3 separate regions of the Homo sapiens genome follow, and all the other regions are linked to region 1. The links come from fine-mapping of genetic effects on gene expression. A gene starts in region 1. Each other region holds a variant in brackets. All regions are shown on one strand. Distances are between the middles of the regions.

The links. PIP is the estimated chance that this variant, and not a neighbour inherited with it, causes the effect.
Region 2: its variant is fine-mapped to the expression of DBNL in whole blood (TOPMed, PIP 0.93).
Region 3: its variant is fine-mapped to the expression of DBNL in monocytes (BLUEPRINT, PIP 0.94).

The regions. Positions count from the first base shown.
Region 1 is chr7:44,040,856-44,049,035 of GRCh38, forward strand. It overlaps DBNL (drebrin like), which reads left to right and starts at 3,847. Exons shown (of 13, transcript NM_001014436.3): 1 at 3,847-3,965. The coding sequence starts at 3,883. It overlaps LINC00957 (long intergenic non-protein coding RNA 957), which reads left to right. Exons shown (of 3, transcript NR_072982.1): 3 at 3,398-3,441. RefSeq lists a silencer at 3,887-4,106 and an enhancer at 4,045-4,545.
Region 2 is chr7:44,069,506-44,077,676 of GRCh38, forward strand. It overlaps POLM (DNA polymerase mu), which reads right to left. Exons shown (of 11, transcript NM_013284.4): 6 at 7,004-7,124; 7 at 4,893-5,025; 8 at 4,626-4,728; 9 at 4,278-4,520; 10 at 4,120-4,203; 11 at 2,557-3,872. The coding sequence ends at 3,786. It overlaps MIR6838 (microRNA 6838), which reads right to left and starts at 3,928; the gene lies at 3,873-3,928. RefSeq lists enhancers at 4,594-4,793, 4,864-4,933. The variant C/T (reference allele first, on the strand shown) is at 3,590.
Region 3 is chr7:43,979,912-43,988,091 of GRCh38, forward strand. It overlaps the pseudogene POLR2J4. Among named protein-coding and RNA genes, the nearest start is that of SPDYE1, 14 kb to the right of the region's middle. RefSeq lists a silencer at 6,052-6,101. The variant CA/C (reference allele first, on the strand shown) is at 4,940.

The DNA.
Region 1 (8,180 bases):
GACACGGACACAGGGGACAATACACGGGTGGGCAGAAGCACAAACACACATGCTGACAGGGCCTGATCCCAACCCGCTGCCGCTGCGCCCCGCACCCCCCCGGAGTTACCCCCGGCCTCACCCTACATCCTTAACTTCCACTTTGCTGGGGTCCAGCTCCACGTACTTCTCCTCAAACACCTTGTTGATGATGGGGCCCAGGACGCCGTGCAGGTACTGCATCCCGGCCACCTGGGGACCACCGCAGGTCACATTGATCCTGTCTCCCCCAGTCCCACTCCAGCTGCCCACCTTCTCCCGGCAGCCGCCCTTGCACCGTTTGCCTGCCGTATCCGCCCAGGAGGGGGACAGGTACACAAGCAGGGCAAACTGTTTATTCATGAATGAATGAATGAGTGAGTGAATGAATGACTAGAATTCTTAGCCCTTGTAATCCTAGCACTTTGGGAGGCCGAGGCAGGAGGATCACTTGAGGCCAGGAGTTTGAGACCAGCCTGGGCAACATAGTGAGACTGTCTCTAACTTAAATTTTAATCACACACACATTCTTTTGGGGGGGGGGGGTGCGGGGCACGGAGTCTAGCACGGGGCCCAGGCTAGAGTGCAGTGGCGTGAGCTCACTACAATCTCTGGCTTCTGGTTCAAGTGAGTCTCCTGCCTCAGCCTCCCCAGTAGCTGGGATCACAGGTGCCCACCACCATGCCAGGCTAATTTTTGTATTTTTAGTAGAGATGGGGTTTCGCCATGTTGGCCAGGCTGGTCTCGAACTCCTGACCTTAAGTGATCCGCCCGCCTCAGCCTCCCAAAGTGCTGGAATTACAGGCATGAGCCACTATGCCCAGCCACATTCTTAACCTTAAAGGGCTCTCAATATGGAGATAGAACACTGGAGTCGAAGTCCCAGCCCCCTCTGTCGCTCTCTCTGAAGCTCAGTGTTGTCATTTGCAAGATGAGGACAATATAGCATGCAACCTCACCTTCAGAAAAGACTCCATGGACTTTGAGGCCAGAGAGTTGCTCCGGAACAGGGTGTTGGTCTTTTGTTACTTGGTCATAAGTAGGCGTTTTCCTTTTGATTTGGTTCTAGGAGGTTAGTGTGCATTGGCGTTCTGTTGCCTGCTTCCAGCCCCTATTCTCCTGCCTCAGGTTCATTAGAAAAGACTGAGTTTGGGGCCGGGCAGGGTGGCTCACACCTGTAATCCCAGTACTTTGGGAGGCCAAGGTGGGCAGATCACGAGGTCAAGAGATCGAGACCATCCTGGCCAACATGGTGAAACCCTATCTCTACTAAAAATACAAAAATTATCTGGGCATGGTGGCACGTGCCTGTAGTCCCAGCTACTCAGGAGGCTGAGGCAGGAGAATTACTTGAACTTGGGAGGCAGAGGTTTCAGTGAGCCGAGTTCGTGGTCACTGCACTCCAGCCTGGCTACAGAGTGAGATTCCATCTCAAAAAAAAAAAAAAAAAAAAGAATGAGTCTGGCCCCTTTTTGTCTTTCTCTCATCCTCTTTGCCTTTCACCATGTTATGATGCAGCAAGAAGCCCCTCATCAGATACTAGTGCCATGACCTTGGACTTCCCAGCCTCCAGAACTGTGAGAAAATAAATTTCTGTTCTATGTAAATTACATAGTCTGTGGTACTTTGTTATAGCAGCACAAAACAAACAAGACAACAAGCAACAATCATGTGAACAGAAAGAAAAATGGGCATAACAAATGAACCATGTTTTTGTCCAAATTAGGTTCACAAGCCCTTATCTGCACCATCCAGACTCAAACACCTTAAGATTTTGGTAGTTCATTTGGTAGCAAAAACTGACCTTAATTGTCATGAGGATATTTAGAGTCGTCTTATATTCCACTTAGCTGATTATTCACACATATCACACACTTAGCTGATTATTCACACATATCACAGCAAAAGCATGAACATGTCTGATTACCAGTTCCTGTCCAGATCCTGTGATAAGGGCTTACCCAGGACATACATGGTATAACTTTTCTGAAATCTTAGATTGAATTCCAAAGCACATCTGGACTTAAGGGATTGTGGATATATACATATATATACTATATGTATATATATACACATATGCATATATATACATATGTGTATATATATACATGTGCATATATACATATACATATGCATATATAATATATGTATACATATACATATGCATATATATACATATGCATATATACATATACATATGCATATATACATATGCACATATACATATACATATGCACATATATACATATGCATATATACATATGCATATATACATATATGTATACCTATACCTATGCATATATATACATATATGTATACCTATACCTATGCATATATATACATATATGTATACCTATACCTATGCATATATATACATATATGTATACCTATACCTATGCATATATATACATATATATGTATACCTATACCTATGCATATATATACATATATGTATACCTATACCTATGCATATATATACATATATGTATACCTATATCTATGCATATATATACATATATGTATACCTATACCTATGCATATATACATATATGTATACCTATACATATGCATATATATACATATATGTATACATATATACACACATAGTATATATACATATACACTATGTGTGTGTGTATATATATACACATATATATACTATGTGTGTGTATATATGTATATATATACTATACTTTTTTTGAGACAGAGTCCCGCCCTGTAGCCCAGGCTGGAGTGCAGTGGCGCTATGTCGGCTCAGTGCAAGCTCTGCCTCCCTGGTTCACGCCATTCTCCTGCCTCAGCCTCCCGAGTAGCTGGGACTACAGGCGCACGCCGCCACGCCTGGCTAATTTTTTGTTTTAGTAGAGACGGGGTTTCATCGTATTAGCCAGGATGGTGTCGATCTCGTGACCCCTTGATTCGTCCACCTCGGCCTCCCAAAGTGCTGGGATTACAGGCGTGAGCCACCGTGCCCGGCAGGATTTATATTTTAAGGAGGCAGGGGAGTTATTCTCCATGGGAGGAAATAAGCCGTGAGCTGCCTTGCGCTTTGGCATGTTTCTCTATCATACAGATAAGAAGCTAGTTCAGTCAAGTGTATGCAGATTTGTGGATGGAAAAACTGGTGCTCCCAGGAGGAGGGGAGCAGATTGAGGAATTACTGACACCTTCTAGGGGCGACCAGCCAGATGTGCAGGTGAAGCACAAGACAGGTTCTCTTCATGCCTCCACTATCCTGGCCTCGACCAAACTGCAGAGGGAAAAACTCAGGTGAGAGTGAGAAAGCACAGTCACTTTCAGTTAGGTTTGTAGCGGTGTGATCGTCACTTAGCACTCATTTATTCGTGTATTCATACATTTATGCATGTTTCTTTCACAGATCAAACTGTTGAGGGTCCACAAACAGGCTGAAGACCTCGTCTGGAGGGAGACTGCAGTGAACCCAAGATCGTTCAAATAAGCGCATCGACATAACAAGATTTAGAAAAGAATAAGCACGGTGCTGTGAGAGCAGCTAGCGGGGGCTGGACTGGGTCCCTGCGGCCAGGCTTCCAAGTCGAGCTGCCGTTTGGGTGGGACCAGAAGACGGGCTAGTCTGCGCCCCAGGATCCCTCCCTGAGGACAAACAGAAGGCCGGGTCCTCCCTTCTCCCGCTTGTCCTTCGGCATTCGCGGGACCTGCATGCTAGACCAGCTGGCCGGACAGCTCGCTAGGACCCGCGGGTGCGGCTGGCCCCTACCATTTCCGCTTCCTGCCGTGGGGCGGGGTTTCCGGTTGTCGGAGGCGAGGCTTGTCGGCTGTCAAAGGGGCGGCCCGGCCCGGCCCGGAAGCTACAGCAGCGGCGCGGAGACTGCGGGGCGGGCCATGGCGGCGAACCTGAGCCGGAACGGGCCAGCGCTGCAAGAGGCCTACGTGCGGGTGGTCACCGAGAAGTCCCCGACCGACTGGTGGGCGGCGAGACGGGCCAGGGTCGGGCCAGGGGCTGCCTCAGGGGTGGGTCTGTCTGGGGCGAGCGGGGGACTCGGGGGGAGCGGGAGCGCGAGCGCGGAGCGGTGCCCAGGCAGGTGGCCTGGGGCTTACCTGTCTGCCCCTCCACACCGCAGCAGGAGTGCTGTCTCACCCTCGTGACCCCTTGCCCCGCCGATCGTGGACAGGTTAAACCCGGCTTGGGGGGACCCAGTGAGTCCCCGCCCCTCCCCCTGTCGCTCGCCACCCACTGTGGGCTTCGCGGGCTTCCATGTTGGATCCTCGGCCTGGTCGTGCTTGCTAGCTTCGCCAGGTTCTTCTTTCCAGTCCTGGGACTTCCCTGGAGAAGGGGTTCCTGCACAGCCCTCTCTGAGAAGGCGGAAGCCACGCCCGGTTTTTTTGCAAACGCTGTGTTCGGGGATGGGCATTTGAGAGCGGCCTGGCAGCCGGGCTGTGAATGTGAGCCCTGCCCTGGGGGCTTCAGACGAGGAGCTCAGGGATCTGGGTTCTTGGCTGTCTGTGAACGTGGACTTCAGAACTTTCGTTTCTCCAAAAAGTGTACTCTTTCTTGTGCCTGAGCCATGGGAAGATGTACGAAAGTAGGATGCTCGCTATCTATTTGGGAAAAGGTCCCATTTTCCCTCTACCACCCAAGATATCCTCACTTTCCTCTTTGCTTAAATTGTTTTTACTGACCAGTTTTGAGAAATCCCAGTTCTGAGAAATATGCTGAGTATGGTGGGCTAAGGTGACCAACTTTGGGGAATAGAAACTGGGCCTTGGAGTCTGAGTCGTGGTGGGGCCACACTGTGGTCAGCACTGAGGCCCTCCCAACTGTCTTCCCCTTGTGTGGGGGCCATCTCCACTTGTGTAAGTGCTTTCTCATCTCCTCTGCTCTCCGTAGTGCCCAGCACAGAGCGGCTTTTATGCAGTGTACTATTGTGACCCTGAGGATGTTATGGCTTTGCTTTTTCCTCAGCCCTGGGCCATTAGGGGAAGAGCTTTAGAACACCAGTTGCTTGGTTCTATGGGGTCTCTGTAGACTCTCCTGTCAGGTCTGAGTGCCCTGGATGGCACTTATGCCAAACAGCACATCTTCTGTTTTGGAGGCATCTAAAGAAGGATATCTCGTCATTTCCTTGGTGGGGTTTTCTGCCTGCTTTATAATCCCTCAGATTTACCCACGTCAGTCAGTGTTATTTTTCTCAGGAGAGTTTCTAGATGTCAGCCCTCTGTTTTGCCTCTCTCCTATTCCTGTTCGTGTTTCTCTTAGACCTCTCCTGTTACTTCAAACCCAGTCAAAAGTATCTCTGCAATGAGTGCCCCATTTTCATGTCCACATCATACCACTTGGCTTTAGAACCCAGAAGAATCTTTGCCCCTCTTCAGCCCTGCCAAATTAAAGATTTTGCTTCTTAACATGCTCTTGATCACTCTGTTTACCCTGGCAGACTTACCTAGGAGCTTCCTGGCACTCCTCATCTATCTCCCTTCCAGGTCTCTCTTCATCATCAGTCTTCTCAGGAACCATCACTGGTTTGGGATGATGCCTCCCAGCCCACCTGGCAGTTTGGGCTTCCCTCTTCAGACCTCCTATGTTCCTAGCCTTTCCTTGGGCTGCTTACGAGAGCTGTCTGCTACCACTCCTGGCCCGGTGCTTACCCACCCCATCTACTCTCTGTCCCTCATGAGGGTTGTGGAGCCTCCTCTTTCCCCTCATGAAGTCAGAACCCACCCATCTCACTGGACTCATCTGCCCAGACAGCCATGCTATGCTCCCTCCCTACCTCCAGGCTCCTGCAGCACTACAGGTTGTGTCACTCAGCAGCATAACCCACTGACCTCCACCCTCATCGTCACAGCCATTAAGGTAGTTACTCAGCAGATACTATGTGGCAGATTCCTGCACACTGCGGAAAAATATCTGGACCATGTCACTTCCGTGTCTGTAACTCTACAGTGGCTTCCTGTTGCATGTTGAATAAAGCCTAGACTCCTTGCCCTGCTGATGCCCTGCATGACCCAGAACCTACCACCCCTTTCATTTACCACACTGTGGCCACACCTGTTTGTCACCACTCTGGCCGTCTTTCTCTTCCTCAAACTTACAAGCTGGTTCCTCTTCAGAGTCCTTGCTCTGCTGCTTCCTCTGCATGGAGCACACTTTTTCCACATCGTCCCAGGTGGCTCCCCAGCCTTCACTTCTTGGCCCCGAGGTTGCCTTCTCAGAGAGGCCTTCCTTGATTCCTAGCTCCTTGTTTGTAGGCACTTTTTCCCATCTTTCTGTTTGACTTCCTTCAGACACATGCCAGACACAAAATATGCTGGAAATCCTTATGGATTTTCTTGTCACCTTTATCTCTTACTAGAAGGGGTGGGGTGGGCTCTGTCTCTGTCCTCGGTGCTTGAGGCACGGTTGTTACATGTGGCAGATGCTTAGATGAAGGATGGACCAAGTCATACAGAAAAAGTGGTAGAGATATCAGAGGAAGAAGAGGTGGTCTCTAGTTTGGTGGGTCATAAGAGGTTTCACACACACAGTGCTGGCATTGGGGAGGGCAGATAGAGTGGGGAGCAACCATGACATCAGCTCTCCATCTTGGATCTGTCTCCCGCCCCTGCTTACTCCGTATCTTGGCATGGTTTGTTCTCACCTGGTTCATGTGTCACCTTCAGCACCTGCTTCACTCTCTAATAGTACGTTAGTGTTAGGTGTGTGTTTTTTCTTCCGTTAGAAAGTAAGTTCCATGGGCAGGACCTTTTAGGGATTGTTCATAGCTGCATTCCTGTAACTAATAAGCAGTAGGCTCTCAGTACTTATTTTCAAAGGCACTATTGAATTATAAGATGCTTGACACTCCATATGCCTTGCTGTTCAGAGGCCAGTGCACCATGTTTTTTCATGTTGATTTGAAACTTCCTTCGCCCTTCTTTCAAAAGGCCTCTGAACTGGGAATGAGCCTCTGCGCTGGGAACATTCTTAAAGGTGGCCTGGGGTAGAGAGGGATCAAGTCAGAGGGATAGGTGGCAGGCATTGAGCTTGGCTCTTATTATATTAGCTGCTGAGTCCCTTTTTTTTTTTTTTTTTTTTTTTGAGACAAGAGTCTTGCTCTGTCGCCCAGGCTGGAGTGAAGTGGCACGATCTTGGCTCACTGCAACCTCTGCCTCCCAGGTTCAAGTGATTTTCCTGCCTCAGCGTCCCAAGTAGCTGGGATTACAGGCACCCACCACCACACCCAGCTAATTTTGTATTTTTAGTAGAGACGGGGTTTCCCATGTTGGCCAGGCTGGTCTCAAACTCCTAACCTCAGGTGATCCACCCGCCTTGGCCTCCCAAAGTGCTGGGATTACCGGCATGAGCCATCGCAGCTGGTTGAGTCCCTTCTTGCAAGAGCTGGGTTGAGCTGCCATCTTCTGTTACCTGCTGCTTGTGCCAGCTTGCTATCTTCTGGGAGCCAGGGCTTTGTGGCCATCAAGAGGAATGGGCTTCTTTCCTCCAGGGAGTTCCCCCCAGCTCATGCTGGCAGTGTGCCACCTCCCAAATCTTTCTCTTGTTTTTCTGTGTTCTTTTCTCTAGTTCCTTTTCTCTGAGTGTTTCTCATTCAGTGTTTCTCTCCTGTATTCTGTCTCCCCTCCTGGTAAGGAGTGCCTTTTCCCGGAGGCCTGTCTCCTCCCTACCAACCAGATCCACTGGGCCTGGGTCTAATTTCTTCCATTTTTCTGAGGCATAAGTATCTCTGCCCAGTGGCACTGGCAAAGCCCTGGGGAAGCCAAGTTGAAGCTGATTTGGTTCCTGTCCGACTGTTTATCCCTGGAGCTTCTGTCTGGCCTGCCTCAGCAGGCCTGTGCTTTAGAGCCTGGGGAGATGACACACACTGGACTGGGTTTTGCCTTTGACTTATAGTCCAGTGGGTCAGTGCCTCCAGCCCATGTCCAGCAGCCCTGCTGGGGATGTTCAGTTGCTGCAAGGTTCATGCTATTAGCAAGCCAGAATGAATCTTTACCAGAGTTTTGTTTTTGTTTTTGTTTTTAAGAGTTGGGGTTTCACTCTGTTGTTTGGGCTGGAGTACAATGGCATCATCATGGCTCACTGTAGCCTCGACCTCCCAGGCTTAAGCAATCCTCCCACCTCAGCCTCCCGAGTAGTTGGGACTACGGGCATATGCCACCACGCCTGGCTGATTTTTGTATTTTTG
Region 2 (8,171 bases), 29 kb after region 1:
TCACCTAAAGTCAGGAGTTCGGGACTAGCCTGACCAACATGGCAAAACCCTGTCTCTATTAAAAATACAAAATTAGCCAGGTGTGGTGGTGCATGCCTGTAATCCCAGCTACTCGGGAGGCTGAGGCAGGAGAATTGTTTGAAATCGGGAGGCGGAGGTTGCAGTGAGCCAGATTGTGCCATTGCACTCCAACCTGAGCGACAAGAGCGAAACTCCATCTCCAAAAAAAAAAAAAAAAAAAACACAAAAAAACTATGTGTATTAGAACCCCTAGAACAACCACTATGTGTGTGTGTTGGGGGTGTGTGTGTGTGTGTATAGGGAGAAGGAGAGATAGGAGGGAAGGAAAAAAGGAAAGAAGAAACAGCAATGGAAAACAGGGAACAAACAGAAAACAACATAATGGTAGATCTAAAGCCAAACATTTCAATAGTTGCATTAAACATAAATGGCCTCATCACGCCAATTCGACATATTATCAGTTTGGATTATAAAAACCTAATTATATGCTGTCTTTAAGTAACTCACATTAAATATAACAGGATACAAGTAGGTTGAAGTAAAAGGTAACAACTCATTCTCTGAGGGCAGTATTACCCTGATACCAAACCCAGACAAACAACCTAAGGAAACTACAGACCAACCTCTTATGAGTACATATGCAAAAATTGAGAGTCCAGGGAAAAATCCTTCACACAATGGTTAATTGATTTTTGACAAGGGTGCCAAAATAATTCAATGAGTAAAGAATAGTATCTTTAACAAATGGTGCTGGGACAACTGGATTTCCACGTGCAAAACAATGAATCCCCACTTTACACTTATATAAAAATTAACTCAAGGCCGGGCACTGTGGCTCACACCTGTAATCCCAGCACTTTGGAAGGCCGAGGTGGGCAGATCACGAGGTCAGGAGATCCAGACCATCCTGGCTAACACGGTGAAACCCCGTCTCTACTAAAAATATAAAAAATTAGCCGGGCGTGGTGGTGGGTGCCTGCAGTCCCAGCTACTCGGGAGGCTGAGGCAGGAGAATGGTGTGAACCCGGGAGGCAGAGCTTGCAGTGAGCCGAGATCGCACCACTGCACTCCAGCCTGGGCGACAGAGCGAGACTCCGTCTCAAAAAAAAAAAATTAGCTGGGCTTGGTGGCTTGTGCCTGTAGTCCTAGCTACTTGGGAGGCTGAGGCAGGAGGATTGCTTGAGCACAGGAGTTTGAGACTGCAGTGAGCTATGATCATACTACTGCACTCCAGCCTGGGTGACAGAGCAAGACCCTGTTTCTGGGGAAAACAAAGAAACAAACTATAAAAGAAAGCAAAGAAAATCTTTGTGATTTGGGGTCAGAGATAGGACTCCAAAAACATAAGAAAAAAACTGGTAAACTGAATAAATTGATAAACTGGACTTCACAAAAATTAAATACATTTACTATGAAAAAAACAGTGCTAAAAGAAGAAAGATAGTCTACACACTGGGAAAAAATATTTACCAGTCACCATAGTGGCACATAAAGAACTCTCAAGATTGAACAGTAACAGATGGGCATGGTGGCTCATGCCTGTAATCCTAGCACTTTGGGTTTTGCCATGTTGGCCAGGCTGGTCTCGAACTCCTGACCTCAGGTGATCCACCCACCTTGGCATCCCAAAGTGCTGGGATTACAGGTGTGAGTCACCATGCCTGGCCAACAATTCCATTTTTAAAAATGAGACTTGAACAGCCACTTCACCAGTGAGGACATAGAAGCCAGTGAACAGATGTTCAACGTTATCAGGCATTAGGGAAATGAAAATAAAACCACAGTGAGCTACTGTTATGTACCTACTACTAGAAAAGCTAAAGTTAACAAATACTGCAACTATCAAGTGCTGACAGGGATACAGAGCAACTGCCTACTGTGGTGTTTAACTTACAGGGGTGCTCACAACGCTGGTGGACTGCAAAATGACAGACGCACTCGGGACAACAACTTGGCTCTTATGAAATAAACATATACTTACCAAATGACCCAGTAATCCTGTGCCTATTTACCCAAGAGAAATGAAGACCCATGTGTTACACGAAAACCTGTACATGCATGTCTGTAGCAGTACGATTCATCATCTCCAAACCCTGGAAACAACCCAGACTTTTTTTCTTTTTAGGCAGACTCTTGCTCTGTCGCCCAGGCTGGAGTGCAGTGGCACAATCTCAGCTCACTGCAACCTTGGCATCCCAGGTTCAAGCAATTCTTATGCCTCAGCCTCCCGTGTAGCTGGGAATACAGGTATGAGCCAACATGCCCAGCAAATTTTTGTATTTTTTGTAGAGATGGGGTTTCGCCATGGTGGCCAGGCTGGTCTCAAACTCCTGGCCTCAAGTGATCCACCCGTCTCAGCCTCCCAAAGTGCTAGGATTACAGGCATGAGCCACGGCATCCGGCCACAACCCAGACATTCAACACCTGAATGGATAAACTGTAGAACACCCATGGCATGGAACAAATTACAAACTCAACATACCCAGCAACCTGCAGGAACGTCAAAGGCATTAGGCTGTGGGGAGAGGCCAGTCCAAAGGTTAAATATAGTTTGGTTCTATTTACATGACATTCTAGAGAAAGCAAAACTATAGGGATGTAGCACCGCTAAGTGGGTGGGGGTGGAGAAGCACATGACCACAATAGGACAGCATGGGAAGTGTTCTGGGGATGGACCTGGTGTGCCCTACGTGTGCAAAAACTGCACCCCAAGAGTCAACTTTACTGCATGTTTTCAAAATATTTTTTAATGTGATGAGTGGTCTGGGAAATCCTCGCCTAACAAAGTGGCTTTTGATTCAAGGCCTGAAGAAGGGGAGGGCCCACTCCAGGTAGATGACATGGCCAGGGCAAAACCTGAGGCCAGAGTGTGCCTGGGGATATGAGGGACGTGGAGGGCACCCATGTCCAGCCCACCTCAGTGCTTCTGCCTCAGTGAGAAGGGGAGGGAGTTGGCCACAAGGGGGCCTGGGTGCATCAAATAGGAAGCCGGTGAGTCAAGCAGCTCGGGGCCAGTGGGGCTGGAGAGATGCCAGAGCCAGGGGCTATGTGTGGACTTAGGGTTTGGAACCATTAAAGGGCTCTGCGACGGGAGTGGCAGGATATGACCTATTTTTGAGACATTGTGCTGAGAACAGGCCTTAAAGGCAGAAGCACAGAGCCTGGCTCGGGGCGCTGCAGTACTGAAGCCCCATAGTTGAAAATTATCTTCCTCCCAGCTCCTACCCAGGCCCTCTCCCTCTCCAGATGCCTACAGCACACCAGACAGTAGGCTCCTTGCTGGCACGAACCACAGCCTCCAGCTCATGGCTCTCAAATGCAGTGCAGGTATGCATGGTTCTCTTCTGGGCATTCTGGGCAGGGTGCCCTGCAGGAGCCACAGTTAACTGCAGTGCAACTAATGAGACACTGCACATCAGGGACCACTTGCCATTCATGACTGCAGGCCCCACCACAGCTCCACGATGTGGGCCCCACTCACATCCCATCCAGGGCAGGAACGTGAGCCATGGGGAGGCTAAGAGCAGACCCAGGGTCACACAGTGATGAGGCTGGCACTGAGGGCTCC[C/T]ACCTCATCACACCCTGCAGCACACCAGCAGGGGCTCAACTGATCCTGCAGGCACAATTGACCTCCGGAAGAGCCAGGCCTTGGCGGGGAGGGGTGAAGGTGGGGGTCAGGGGGCAGCATATCTGCCTGGAGACATTCAGTGGCCAGGTTGGGGGCAGCCCAATTTCCTGAGTGGAAGTGGGGGACACAGGCAGGCTCAGGCGTTTCTCTGCTCTGGAGGAAGGTACTCAAGGCCCAGGTGTCTGAAGATGTCTTCCTCTGAAGCCGCTTGGAAAAATGTCTTCTGCAACAGAAGCAGGACTTCCGTGACCTAGGAGTCTTGCCACTGCTGCTTCCCTGCAGGAAGACTGAGGGTGGGGAAGAGCCCAGCGCCGAGGTGGGGTGTGCTCTTGAGGGCCAGGAACTGTGTGTGGAGACCCAGATTCGGGTCCTATGGGTTTCAGGCTGGAGGGGTCTGGGGCCATTTCAGATTGTGGGTCAGGGAGCGGACTATGGGTGCTGTTTGCTGTCCCCAGTCCCCAACAATGTACCTGCTCCGGGTCAAACAGCCCATGGCTGTTCAGCCACAGGCCCTTCTCCTTCCGGCTGAAGCGGCGCAGCTCCCGCTGGAAAAGCTGTAGGGAAGGGATTGTCCTCAGCAGGGCTGGCCCAGCCCCACCCCCAGGCGGCCCAGCGGCACACTGCCTACCTTGGAGCCAGTCCAACCGAGCAGGGCGAAAGGGAACTGGCTGACGGGTGCAACTACCAAGTCCACTCTCACGGCCTTCCAGGATGGGCAGGGCCTCGTGGATCCCCCCACAGCAGCCCCTGGAGGTTGTGGTAGGCGGAAAATGCAGAAACTTCTCTCAAAAGCGTCCATGTGGCTCTGTTGGGCCAGGCGGGTAGGGGACTCACAGCAGCTGTGCTGGTGCTGGTGGTACAGGATGAGGCCCTGTGGGGAGAGGCGGGCGTGGCTGAGACCATCCGGTGGTGTGGAGAGAGCAGGAGGCAGTGGCATTGGCCAGCGGTGGCTCTTGGGGAGCAGGGAGGCCCTCACCTGGTCCTGCAGGCGGCACATCACTCTAGGCAGCAGCCCCGCCTCCTGACCCTCCTTGGGGTGGGTGATGAGGAAGTCCACGTCATGGCCCTGCAACTTCCCCCTGAGGGCGTCAGTCTGACTCTGACTCAGGGACACGGCCTGCTCACTCCAGCCCCAGGCCACATCCCTTCCAACGAGTGGGCCCGCTTCAGGGTCCCCGACTCAGGTCCCTTCACTGGGGAGGGGTCTGAAGCCAAGCCAGAGGGGCACGTCGGGCCTTCTTACCTGCGGAAGCCGCCGGTCAGCGTGACGGTGGCCCCAGGCAGGGCCTGCCCCACAGCTTCCTCCACCACCTGCTGCAGGGCATCTACATCGGACCGCAGGACTGGGGTGCTCAGGTCCTGGTGGTGCTGGAGCCCTGGGGGCAACACCGGCCCTCCTGACTCACCCAGCCTGCCCACCACACCGAGCCCCCATCCCTCACCAGCATGAGGTGATCAACCTGGGGCCCCGTCATTGCAGGACCAGGAGAGGCCTCCGAGGAAGGTGAGGCTAGGGCAGGGAGCAGAGTGAGATCCCAATCTAAGCCTGACACTATCTTCTCTCCCCCTTTAAATTTTAAACTTTTATTTTGAGACAGTTGTAGATTCACTCGCAGTTAAAAGAAATAGCACAGAGGGAGATCCCATGTGCCTTTTACCCAGCTCCCCCAAAAGGTTAACCCCTTACAAAACTATAATTTTGCAACCAAATATAAGGATACTGATGTTGATACAGTCATGCCACAGGCTATCTCTTTTGATGGCTGTTTTTCCTTATGCATAAAGTGGGACCAAGAGGTGGTAAAAGGATGGAAGATGGCTTTGCCATGACGAACACCTCACTCTGGCCTACTTCTGTTTCCTCACCTATCAGCCTCCCACACGCAGTTAAGGAGAGGTTTATTTATTTATTTGAGATGGAGTCTCGCTCTTGTTGCCCAGGTTGGAGGGCAGTGGCGCAATCTGAGCTTACTGCAACCTCCACCTCCCAGGTTCAAGTGATTCTCCTGCCTCAGCCTCCCGAGTAGCTGAGATTACGGGTGTCTGCCACCACACCCAGCTAATTTTTTATTTTTAGTAGAGACAGGGTTTCGCCACGTTGGCCAGGCTGGTCTTGAACTCCTAACCTCAGGTGATCCACCCGCCTCGGCCTCTCAAAGTGCTGGGACTACATAAAGATGTGAGTCATGGCACCCAGCTAAGGAGAGGTTTAAATGTGAGGAACAGCAGCACCTGGCACAGTGAGCTCTCAGTAAACGCTGCTAACCATTCCTGACTACTCTTGCCATGGGGAGAGGCGATCAAGAGGAACCAGCTCTGCGGGTCTCACCTCCTGTCAGCTGAACTGGGCAGTGGCCCGGGGGAAGATGTGCGAAGAGGCAGTGGAGCTGGCAGTGCCTGCTGGGCTGTGGGGATTGCTTCAGCAGAGCCCTCAACCCAAGGGAGGTCCCAGATGGTGTGGCCAGAGTAGCCAGGCAGGCCATGCAGAGAGAACAGAGTATCTGCTCAACACCTGCCACTTGCCGGCTCTCACAGGGGAGCCTACGAATTCATTCCTTCCCACCTTTTTTTTTTTTTTTTTTTGAGATAGGGTCTTGCTCTGTCACTCAGGCTGGAGTGCAGTGGCTCAATCTCAGCTCATTGCAACTTCCACCTTGGCCTCAAGGCTTGACCTCCCGGGCTCGAGCGATCCTTGTACCTCGGCCTCATGAGTAGCTGGTACTACGGGCATCCACCATCACGCCTGGCTAACTCTTGTATTTCTCGTAGAGACAGGGTTTCACCCTGTTGCCCAGACTGGTCTTGAACTGCTGAGCTCAAGCGATCTACCCACCTTGACCTCCCAAAGTGCTGGGATTACAGGTGTGAGTCACCATGCCCAGCCTTCCTTCTCCATTTTACAGAAAATGTAACAGACTCAGAGAGGTTATTTCTTGGGCAATGGTCACCTACCTGGCAAATGGTAGATAAGACTCAAACCCAGGCCTAACAAACTTGAAAGCTGATGTTCTTTCTGCTGCTCAGTGCCACCTCTGCAGGCCTCCATGTACCAAGCACCACACTGGGCAGTGTGCCCAAGGCCCAGGCTGTCCCTGGTCACTGGTCAAAGTCTAACCAGTAGGCAGACACAAGCCCCTGGCATATCATGGAAGTTGCTGTGGTCAGCATCGTCCACTGAGAAAAGGCTTTGATAGATCCTGACTGCACTGGGTGGAGACCCCAGGAAGCCCACCACACAAAGCTGCCACCAAACCCTCTGCACCAGACTGCTCCCTTCCCTCTAGGGAGTTGATGCTGAGGGATCCAGGGTGCAGTTTAGGGAAGCCCAGGGCCCAGCCTCTCTGGAGGGCTCACCCGCTTTCTGCTGTTGGGTTAGTTTCTGGGGCTGCTCTCGGAGGTCATCTAAGGTTCGCAGTCCTTCCCGGTACCACCGGTCAGCAGTCTTCACACCGACCCCGAAGATCTGGGTGAAGAGCTGTGGGGAAGGAGCGTAGCCCGGTTGGGCAGAGCTCTCATGGCTAGACTCGGATGATCACCCGCTCCGGGACGGTGTGGCCCATGGAGCACCATGCACCAGGCAGGCGCCGTCCCCACTCGCAACCTGCCGTAGACCACAGGGCAAGGATTCAAACCTGGAGCCTGACTACCCAGCCTGCCGTCTCTGGGAACAAACCCACGCACACCCCTCTCCTCTCCTCTATGAAAGGGACTTACACAGCTCTAGCCTGTGATTCCAACATAATCAAAACAGTCACCCTAACACATCAGCACGAGGGGCTCCTAAGTCACTGGAAAAACCATGCCTCTCCCACCTAACAGAAGGTGGAACAAATTTCTGTGGTTCTCCTCCTTAGCCAACAGCAAAAAACAATGAGGAGTTAACAATCAAAAGGGTGGATTTAGGAGCAGAGTTGGCAGGGCTGGCTGGGGTGCTCACATATCTTCCCACAGAGGGTGGGCCCCAGCCCAAGCAAGTCACCTGCTTCAGGTCAGCCACTAGAGTCCCTCCCTAGGAATTCTGGATCTGAGACTGAGGGCAGGCCCACACAGTGGCAGAAGCTGTAGCCTGTGGCAGCCGAGCACCTTTTGTGGCCACATTTCCAACCGATGGAAGAAGCTGGTGCGTCGCAAGAGAGGGCGAAGCCACCGTGCAGAGGGGCAGAGGGGAGGAGGAGTGGCCTGGTGATACCCAGGTCGCTGAGCCCAGTTGTCCTGCAGACCGGCCACAGCCCTCCCCATCCTGGGCTCTGCTGGCCCTCCTTTCCTTTATTTTGTGAACCAACGGTGTGGGGTGGGTCACTGTCACTTGCAACCCAAAGAATCCTGACTAAAAATGATGAGATTAACCCAATTATATTGTTAATAAACTTCTCATTACTAATGTAATTTTCTGCCAGCCTAGATGCCTTCAGGGCTGGGGCTGAGGCTGACAGTGAAAGTACTCACTAACCTCACACCACTTCAAGGGGATTTCATCATCTTCAGGCCCCTCACTCCCACACTCACCACGGTGGCCCCACTC
Region 3 (8,180 bases), 61 kb before region 1:
TGAGGGTTGCCGGGCGAGCTGCCTCATGCCTGTAATCCCAGCACTTTGGGAGGCTGAGGCGGGCGGATCACCTGAGGTCGGGAGTTTGAGACCAGCCTGGCCAACATGGTGAAACCCCGTCTCTACCAAAATACAAAAATCAGCCGGGCATGGTGGCGGGTGCCTGTAATCCCAGCTATTCAGGAGGGTGAGGCACGAGAATCGCTTGAACCCAGGAGGTGGAGGTTGCAATGAGTCAAGATCGCGCCACTGCACTCCAGCCTGGGTGACAGAGCCAGACTCTGTCTCAAAAACAAAAAAAAAGAAAAAAGAGAGGCAGCTGAGGGGAGGGACAAGGGTCATTAGTCCACATGGGAGCTGGCTGAGGCTGGTGCCCAGGGATAGGGGAGCTGAGTGGGTGCAGGCCCAGGAAGTGAGCAATTGCCAGTGACACCGGGTGGAGGGACAGGTGGAGGAGGAGTTGTGAGCTCAGCTGCACAGGACATTACTCCAAATGGGGCTGAGGAGCAAGGGGGACCCCCACACTCCCCACATCCCAATGCTGAGGCATGTGGGTAGGGGGCTACCCAGGAGGGCTTCAGGGAAAAAGTGTTCTGAAGGAAGAGGCAGGAGGGTGGTGAAGGGGACATTTGGGGGCCACCCCTTCTCCAGCTGGCAAAATTGTCCTGTCCCCGCTGGGTGCGGTGGCTCATGCCTGTAATCCCAGCACCTGGGGAGGCTGAAGCGGAAGGATCACTTGAGGTCAGGAGTTTGAGACCAGCTTGGGCCACACGGTGAAACCTGCACCCCACCCCCCACCCCGCCCAATCTCTACTAAAAATACAAAAATTAGCTGGGCATGGTGGTGCACTCCTGTAATCCCAGCTACTCGGGAGGCTGAGAGATGAGAATCACTTGAACCCAGGAGGCGGAGATTGCAGTGAGCCGAGATCGTGCCATTGTACTCCAGCCTGGGCGACAGAGCAAGACTCCATCTCAAAAAAAAAAAAAAAAAAAAATTTGCCCTGTCCCCTGAGACTCAGAGGTCAGCCCCTGCAGAGTCCCTTCTGCACACCCCCAGCCCCACCCCAGCCTTAGCAGCCCTCTGTCTGGGCAGGACTTTGTGGCCCTCTCTCCAGTCTGGAGACCAGAAGGCCAGGAAGGGAGGCCAGGCATGGTGGCTTATGCTTGTAATTTCAGCACTTTGGGAGGCCAAGGTGGGAGCATCTCTTGAGCTCAGGAGTTCCAAACTAGCCTGGGCAACATGGCGAGACCCCATCTCTACAAAAAATAAAAAAATTAGCTGGGTGGTGGCACATCCTATAATCCCAGCTACTTGGGAGGCTGAGGTGGGAGGATTGCTTGAACCCAGGGGTTCAAGGCTGCAGTGAGCTATGATCGTGCCACTGCACTCAAGCCTGGGTGACGGAGACCCTGCCTCTACCCAAAAAAAAAAAAAAGAAAGAAAGAAAGTTAGCTAGGTGCCTGTAGTGCCTGAAATCCCAGCACTTTGGGAGGCCAAGGTGGGAGGATCGCCTGAGCCCAGGAGTTCAGTGCTACAGTGAGCTATGAAGACGCCACCATACCCCACCCTGGGCAACAGAGTGAGACCCCATCTCTAAAAAAGGAAAAAAAAAAAAAAAAGAAAGAAAGAAAAGAAAGAACAGGAAGGATCTAATTCCACTGGATCAGCATGAAAGTGGCGTGTGCCTCTGTATGTCCATTTCGCTTTCTCTGTCCTGCTCTGACCCAGCAGATTGGCCTCCAGGGACTGCACCACTGAGACCCCACACTCTCTTGCTTCTCGTGAGGTGTGGCCAGTGGAGACACTGGCATGAGATCAGGGGGCGGGAAGACAGAGCCCAGTTCCCTCTGGTGGCTTCATCCTTTCACCTACAGCCCCTGCTCCTGCGGGGCCCCTCACCCATGGCTACTGCCTGCTGATCCAGGAAACATCACTCCCTCCCTCCCATCAGCAATCAGATCCAGGAGTGCTTAGGGCCCCATTACAGCCAAGTCCCAGGTCACCCTCTCTGGTCCATTCCCCTAATGCTGCCCACACCTTTGTAAACGCTCTCAATTGCCCTGTGAGACAGCGTACCCTCTGTTTCCTGCCAGGGCCCGACGCATACAGGGTGTGGGCAAGGGTTTGTGAAATGCAGGGTCTTAGAGTTCACCCAGTTCACCTTCCCTTTTAAAAATGTTTCATTTTAGAGACAGGGTCTTGCTCTGTCACAGAGGCTGGCGTCCAGGGGTGCCATCATAGCTCACTGCAGCCTCCAACTCCTGGGCTCAAGCGATCCTCCCACCTCAGCCTCCATAGTAGCTGGGACTGCAGGTTCACACTACCATGTCTGGCTAATTTTTCTTTTGTTTTGTTTTGAGACAGTCTTGTTCCCTGTCACCCAGGCTGGAGTGCAGTGGCATGATCTGGGCTCACTGAAACCTCCTTCACCTGGGTTCAAGTGATTCTCCTGCCTCAACCTCCACAGTAGCAGGGATTACAGGCATGCACCACCATGGCTGGCTAATTTTTGTATTTTGTGTAGAGACGGGGTTTCACCATGTTGGCCAGGTTGGTCTCAAACTCCTGACCTCAGGTGATCCTCCTGCTTCTGCCTCCCAAAATGCTGGGATTCCAAGTGTGAGCCACCACGCCTGGCCTTAACCACCATGCCCAGCCTTAATTTTTGTATTTATATTTTGTAGAGATGGGGTGTTGCTATGTTGCCCAGGCTGGACTTGAACTCTTGGTCTCAAGCAATCCTCCCACCTCGGCCTCCCAAAGCACTAGGATTAGAGGTGTGAGCCATCTGCACCTGGCCTAACCATTGCTTTTTATGTAAGGGGAAACTGAGGCCCAGAGAGTGTGAGTGATCTGTCTTGGGTCACTCAGCCCCAGGGTTGGGGCTCAAAGCTGTTCTGAAAAGGTTCTGGAGAGGCCAGGGCTTATCTCACAGAGGTTGGCAGCCTGTCTGCCCCATCCCCTGCCTGCCTCTCCCAGCCTGGTAGCTTCAAGATCATTTGAGCATTTCCTCCACAGCAGGAGCCGGATGCATCTGCTCCACCTAATAACCCCATTAGGGCCATTTGCGCCTCTCAGGGGCAGGCGCCTGGGAACCCAGCCAGCGCCCTCCTCCCTGACCTCTTGCCCCAGAGGGCGGGGCCCCTCCACATGGCACAGGGTGTCTTCCGGTCTCCTCTCCATCCCTCACCCTCCCCTACCTGCCCATCAGCAACACATTGCTCCTCCTGCCTGGCACCCTTCCAAGGTCCACCTGGCCCAAGTGTCCTGCTCCTTCTTCAAAGCCACCCCTCCCCAAGATGCTGCCTCTGAAGCTCAAACAGTCCATCTCCCTGACAGTTGTGTCCTCTCCTTCTCTCGTATGTGGTAGTATCACTGTCCTCCCCCTAAAGCAGTGGGCACCTTGAGGGCAGAACCTTGCCACGGGCATCTCTGGCCCCTGGGGTCCGAGCACTGAGTGGGAATCCTGATGATAAGTGTTGCATGAGCTGGGCACAGTGGCTCACGCCTGTAATCCCAGCAGGAGGATCACTTGAGACCAGGAGTTCGAGACCAGCCTGGGCAACATAGTGAGACCCCGTCTCTAAAGAAATTTAAAAAATTAGCCAGACATGGTGCCATGTACCTACAGTCCAAGCTACTCAGGAGGCTGAGGCGGGAGGATCGCTTGCACCCAGGAGTTTGAGGCTGCAATGAGCTATGATCACACCACTGTTCTTTCCAGCCTGGGCAACAGAGTAAGATTCCATGTCTACAAAAAAATTAAAAATTAGCCAGACGTGGTGTCATGTGCCTGTAGTCCCAGCTACTCTCAGGAGGCTGAGGTGGGAGGATCACTGGAGCCCAGGAATTAGAGACTGCAGTGAGCTATGATGGTGCCACTGCACTCCAGCCTGGGCTATAAGGTGAAACTCCATTTCAAAAAAAAAAAAAAAAAAGAAACTGCACCTTTTGCCTTTCGTGTACTCTAGGAAAGGATTGGAGGAAGTGGAGGCAGAGGGCTTGAAGTCCTCCAGCCAACAGGGGGCAGGCTGGGGAGAGGGGCCACAGGGAGGATGCTTGGGTGGAAAGATAGCAAGTGCCAGCCATGCTGCCCCGTGGCCTTTGGTTACCAGGAGGCTGTCTGGGCAGGACAAGAGGAGCACCTATCTCAGGTCCACAGTCTGCCAACAAGCCCAGCTAATTTTTTGTCATTTTTGTAGAGATAGGGTTTCACCATGTTGCCCAGGCTGGTCTCGAACTCCTGGGCTCAAGTGATCCTCCTGCCTCAGCCTCCCAAAGTGCTGGGATTACAGGCCTGAGCCACCGCAACCGGCTTTGGGTCCACAGTCTTCACAGTTCCCAAGGCATGTTCACCTTGGTTTAGCCTTACTGTGGCCTTGTGGGTTCAGGGTTACCATCCTCATTTTACAGATAGGGACAGTAAGGCTGGCAGAGAGACCTGTCCTGCCCCAGGTGACAATTTCTCTAGGATCCTGAGCCTTGCCCTGGTCCTACACGCCCTTGGGGACCTCCTCAGGAGGAGGAGCCAGGGGCAGTGGTGCAGAAAGACTACCCAGGTGTATGATGTCAGAGGCAGGCAGGGAGGTGTTGGGGGCATTTATTTCTGATAGAGACTGGCACAAGCTTTGGGCTAAGGACACCCGCCCCCACCCTCATCTAGAAACAATCTCTCTCGCCAGACTTGATGGCTCACGCCTGTAATCCCAGCACTTCGGGAGGCCGAGTCAGGCAGATCACAAGGTCAAGAGATGGAGGCCATCCTGGCCAACATGGTGAAACCCCATCTCTACTAAAAATACAAAAATGAGCTGGGCATGGCGGCGTGTGCCTGTAGTCCCAGCTACTCAGGAGGCTGAAGCAGGAAAATCGCTTGAACCCGTGTTGCAGTGAGCCAAGATCGCGCCAGCCTGGCGACAGAGTGAGACTCCGTCT[CA/C]AAAAAAAAAAAAAAAAAAAAAAAAGTAAAGAAAAGAAACAATCTCTCTCAGGGTCCAGAAGCTTCAGGGCGTGTCCCAGCCCAGGCTCTGCAGCCTGGGCCAGGGAGGAGGTGTAGGGACACGTGGGCCCCTCTGGTACCCCTCAGGAATCCCCCTCGGCCAGAGTGCTGAACGCGAGGTGCGTGGTGTATCTTCTCACACTCCCTGTCTCCTCTGGGCCTGATAGGGAAGTGCTCCTGCAGCTGTTGAAGCTTGGGAGGGGAGGAGAGAGGGAGAGATGATGGATGCTGAAGAAAGGCTCTGGCCGAGATCCCACAGCCATTGGCTAGCATGCTCTGACCCATCGCACAGGGGAAACTGAGACTCCACTGGCCGGGCAGAATTAACCAAAGGGACTGAGGCGATTCCTTCAAACCTCACAAATCCAGCTCATTGCTCCTGCTCCCCATCACTCTCCCCCTCCACCCTCCACACCTCAGGACCCCGCTCAAACATTATCTGCCTGTCTCCCCTGATCAAAACCCACTCCCGGCTCCCATAGGCTGCAGGATACAGCCCAGTTCCTCAGCTAGGCACCTGGGGCCCCTTGCCTGGCCTGGCTGCATGCACCCCTCCTGCTCCTCCTGCCCCTCCTGCCCCCACACCTCCCCACCCCCTTTTTATCACTCCCTCTCCCCCTCCTCCCCAAATCCCACCAGGGCTAGGTCTCCCCTTTTCTCTAGGAAGCCTTGTGGACACTCTCTGTGCCCCAGGCTCAGGCACCTGAGCTCTGTATGAAACCCTGACACCCCCCCCTTTTTTTTTTTAAATGGAGTCTCACTCTGTCACCCAGGTTGGAGTGCAGTGATGCAATCTCAGCTCACTGCAACCTCCACCTCCCAGGTTCAAGCCGTTCTCCTTCCTCAGCCTCCTGAGTAGCTGGGATTACAAGCACGTGCCACCACACCCAGCTAATTTTTTGTATTTTTAGTAGAGCTGGGGTTTCACTATGTTGGCCAGGCCGGTCTTGAACTCCTGACCTCAGGTGATCTGCGGGCCTCAGCCTCCCAAAGTGCTGGGATTACAGGCGTGAGCCACTGCACCCGGCCTGTATGGCGTCTTGAGGCAATGCTCAGAGCTTGGTGTGAAAGCAATTCACCTCCTCCTTGGGCGCCTCCCCGACTGGGGTGTCCGCAGGCGGCAACCACTTGCAATCCCAGATGCTGCCACCAGGGGGTGCACAGTACCCGCTTGGAAGGTGGGCAGGGGCGGGCGGGGAGGAACTAGAGAGGGAGGGGTTAATGCCCAAGGGCCCCGCCCCTCCCAAGAGGCATGGGCGGTCTCAGCCCGGTCCACTCACCAGCTGTATATGAGCACAGCCAGGAGGACCGTGAGGACGACGGCCAGGAGGATAGACAGGATGGCGATGATGACCACGGTGCCCGGGCTCTGGGGGCCAGGGACAGCCCGAAGTGCCTGGGCTGAGGGCAGTGATGGGGGCCGCATAGGCGGGCAGGAAAAGAAATTTTACCTGACCGGAAGGGGCCCTTGGGCAGAATCCAGACCAATCACCGCCCTGCCTCCCCTACCACCACCCAGGCCTGGGGGAAGGGGGTGGCTGGGGGAGGGGCGCCTGCAGATTGCAAGATGGTTGGCTGCCTCTGACTGAGTGGTGAGCTGACCTGTTCCCCCAGCCCATCCTCAGTCCTCAGGACCCCCAGGCCCCAGCCCCCTGCCCCTACTGTTTGACCGGAGCCTCTGGCCCCTACCTTGCTGCAGGCGAGTGTTGCTGGACCACTTTGTTTCAGCCACGGGTCCTTTGTCATTCATCACCAGGAACTTCACCCTGAATGGGAGACCCAGCATTGGCCATGGGGGTCCCCCGGAGTCCTGAAACCATCAGACTTGGTGCCTGCAAGTCTGTCCCCTGGAGTCCCAGGCCCTGGCGAGAGCAGCCCGGGGAGGGGGCCGGAGGCTGGGGCGAAAGAGCCCAACAGAATGGGTTCAAATCTAGGTGTGACATTTCCAGTGGTGTGACGTCCCTCCCCCTCTCTGGGCTTCTGTGTCCTCATTTGGGAAAGGTAGGGGGTGAGTATTAGATCTCTCAGAACTGAACATGCGTGAATCAAGCATTTAGTGAGGGGAGACCCTGTCTGGATGGAGAGACGCCACCTGAGTGGTCCACATGGCCTGTGGGGACTGGGGCTTGAGGTGGGGAACCTTCTGCTCAAGAAAAGCAGGATAGGCCAGGCATGGTGGCTCACGTCTGTAATCCCAGCACTTTGGGAGGCCAAGGTGGGCAGATCACTTGAAGCCAGGAGTTGAGACCCGCCTGGCCAACATGGTGAAACCTCATCTCTACTAAAATTACAAAAATTAGCCAGGCATGGTGGCAGGTACCTGGCCAACATGGCGAAACCCTGTCTCTACTAAAAATACAAAAATTAGTCGGGTGTGGTGTCAGATGCCTGTAATTCCAGCTACTCGTTAGGCTGAGGCTGGAGAATCGCTTGAACCCAGGAGGCACAGGTTGCAGTGAGCCGAGATCACACCACTCTACTCCAGCCTGGGTCACAGAGCAAGACTCCATCTCAAAAAAAAAAAAAAAAAGAAGAAGAAGAAGACGACGAAGAAGAAGAAAAGGAAAAAAAAAAAAAAAGAAGGATAATTCATGTAATTCATGAAGGCCTCCCCAGCCCCTGCCTGCTGCTTCCTCTTCCCTTTGGCCAAGCAGGAGCAGGGGACCCAGGCATCCTGCTGGGGCCCTGGTGAGCCTCGTAGGAGCTGCCCCAGGCTCCGGCTTGGGTGCATGCGGGCAGGAGCCAGGGCCTGGCAGAGCCGCTCACCTGTAGGGGCTCGGTCCTGGTAGGGGATGGTTGCAGCCAATTTTTGTTGGTTGGCAGTGGGTATCATTGCCAACACGGAGGACATGGAGCTGGCCTCTGGCCTGGTACAGCACCCGGTTGGCCCTCAGTGTGAGATAGTAGCCCCTCTGGGAGAAGTTGGCAGGAGCAGGGATGTCCTGGTTTGTCCGTGGGGCCGTGAAGCTCTGGGTGGCTAAGGGTGGCACCATGGTCAGACAGGTCACACAACAGGATCCCACCCTCACCTTACCAAGCCTGACAGCCCTCCCCAGCCCCATCCCCTGCAGCACCTGCTCCCTGCATCTCCCTGCAACACACCCGCTACTGCCCTTAGGCCCACAGGCCCATTTCACATAGGGAAAACCGAGGCCTGGCCCCAGCAGCACCCACCGTTGC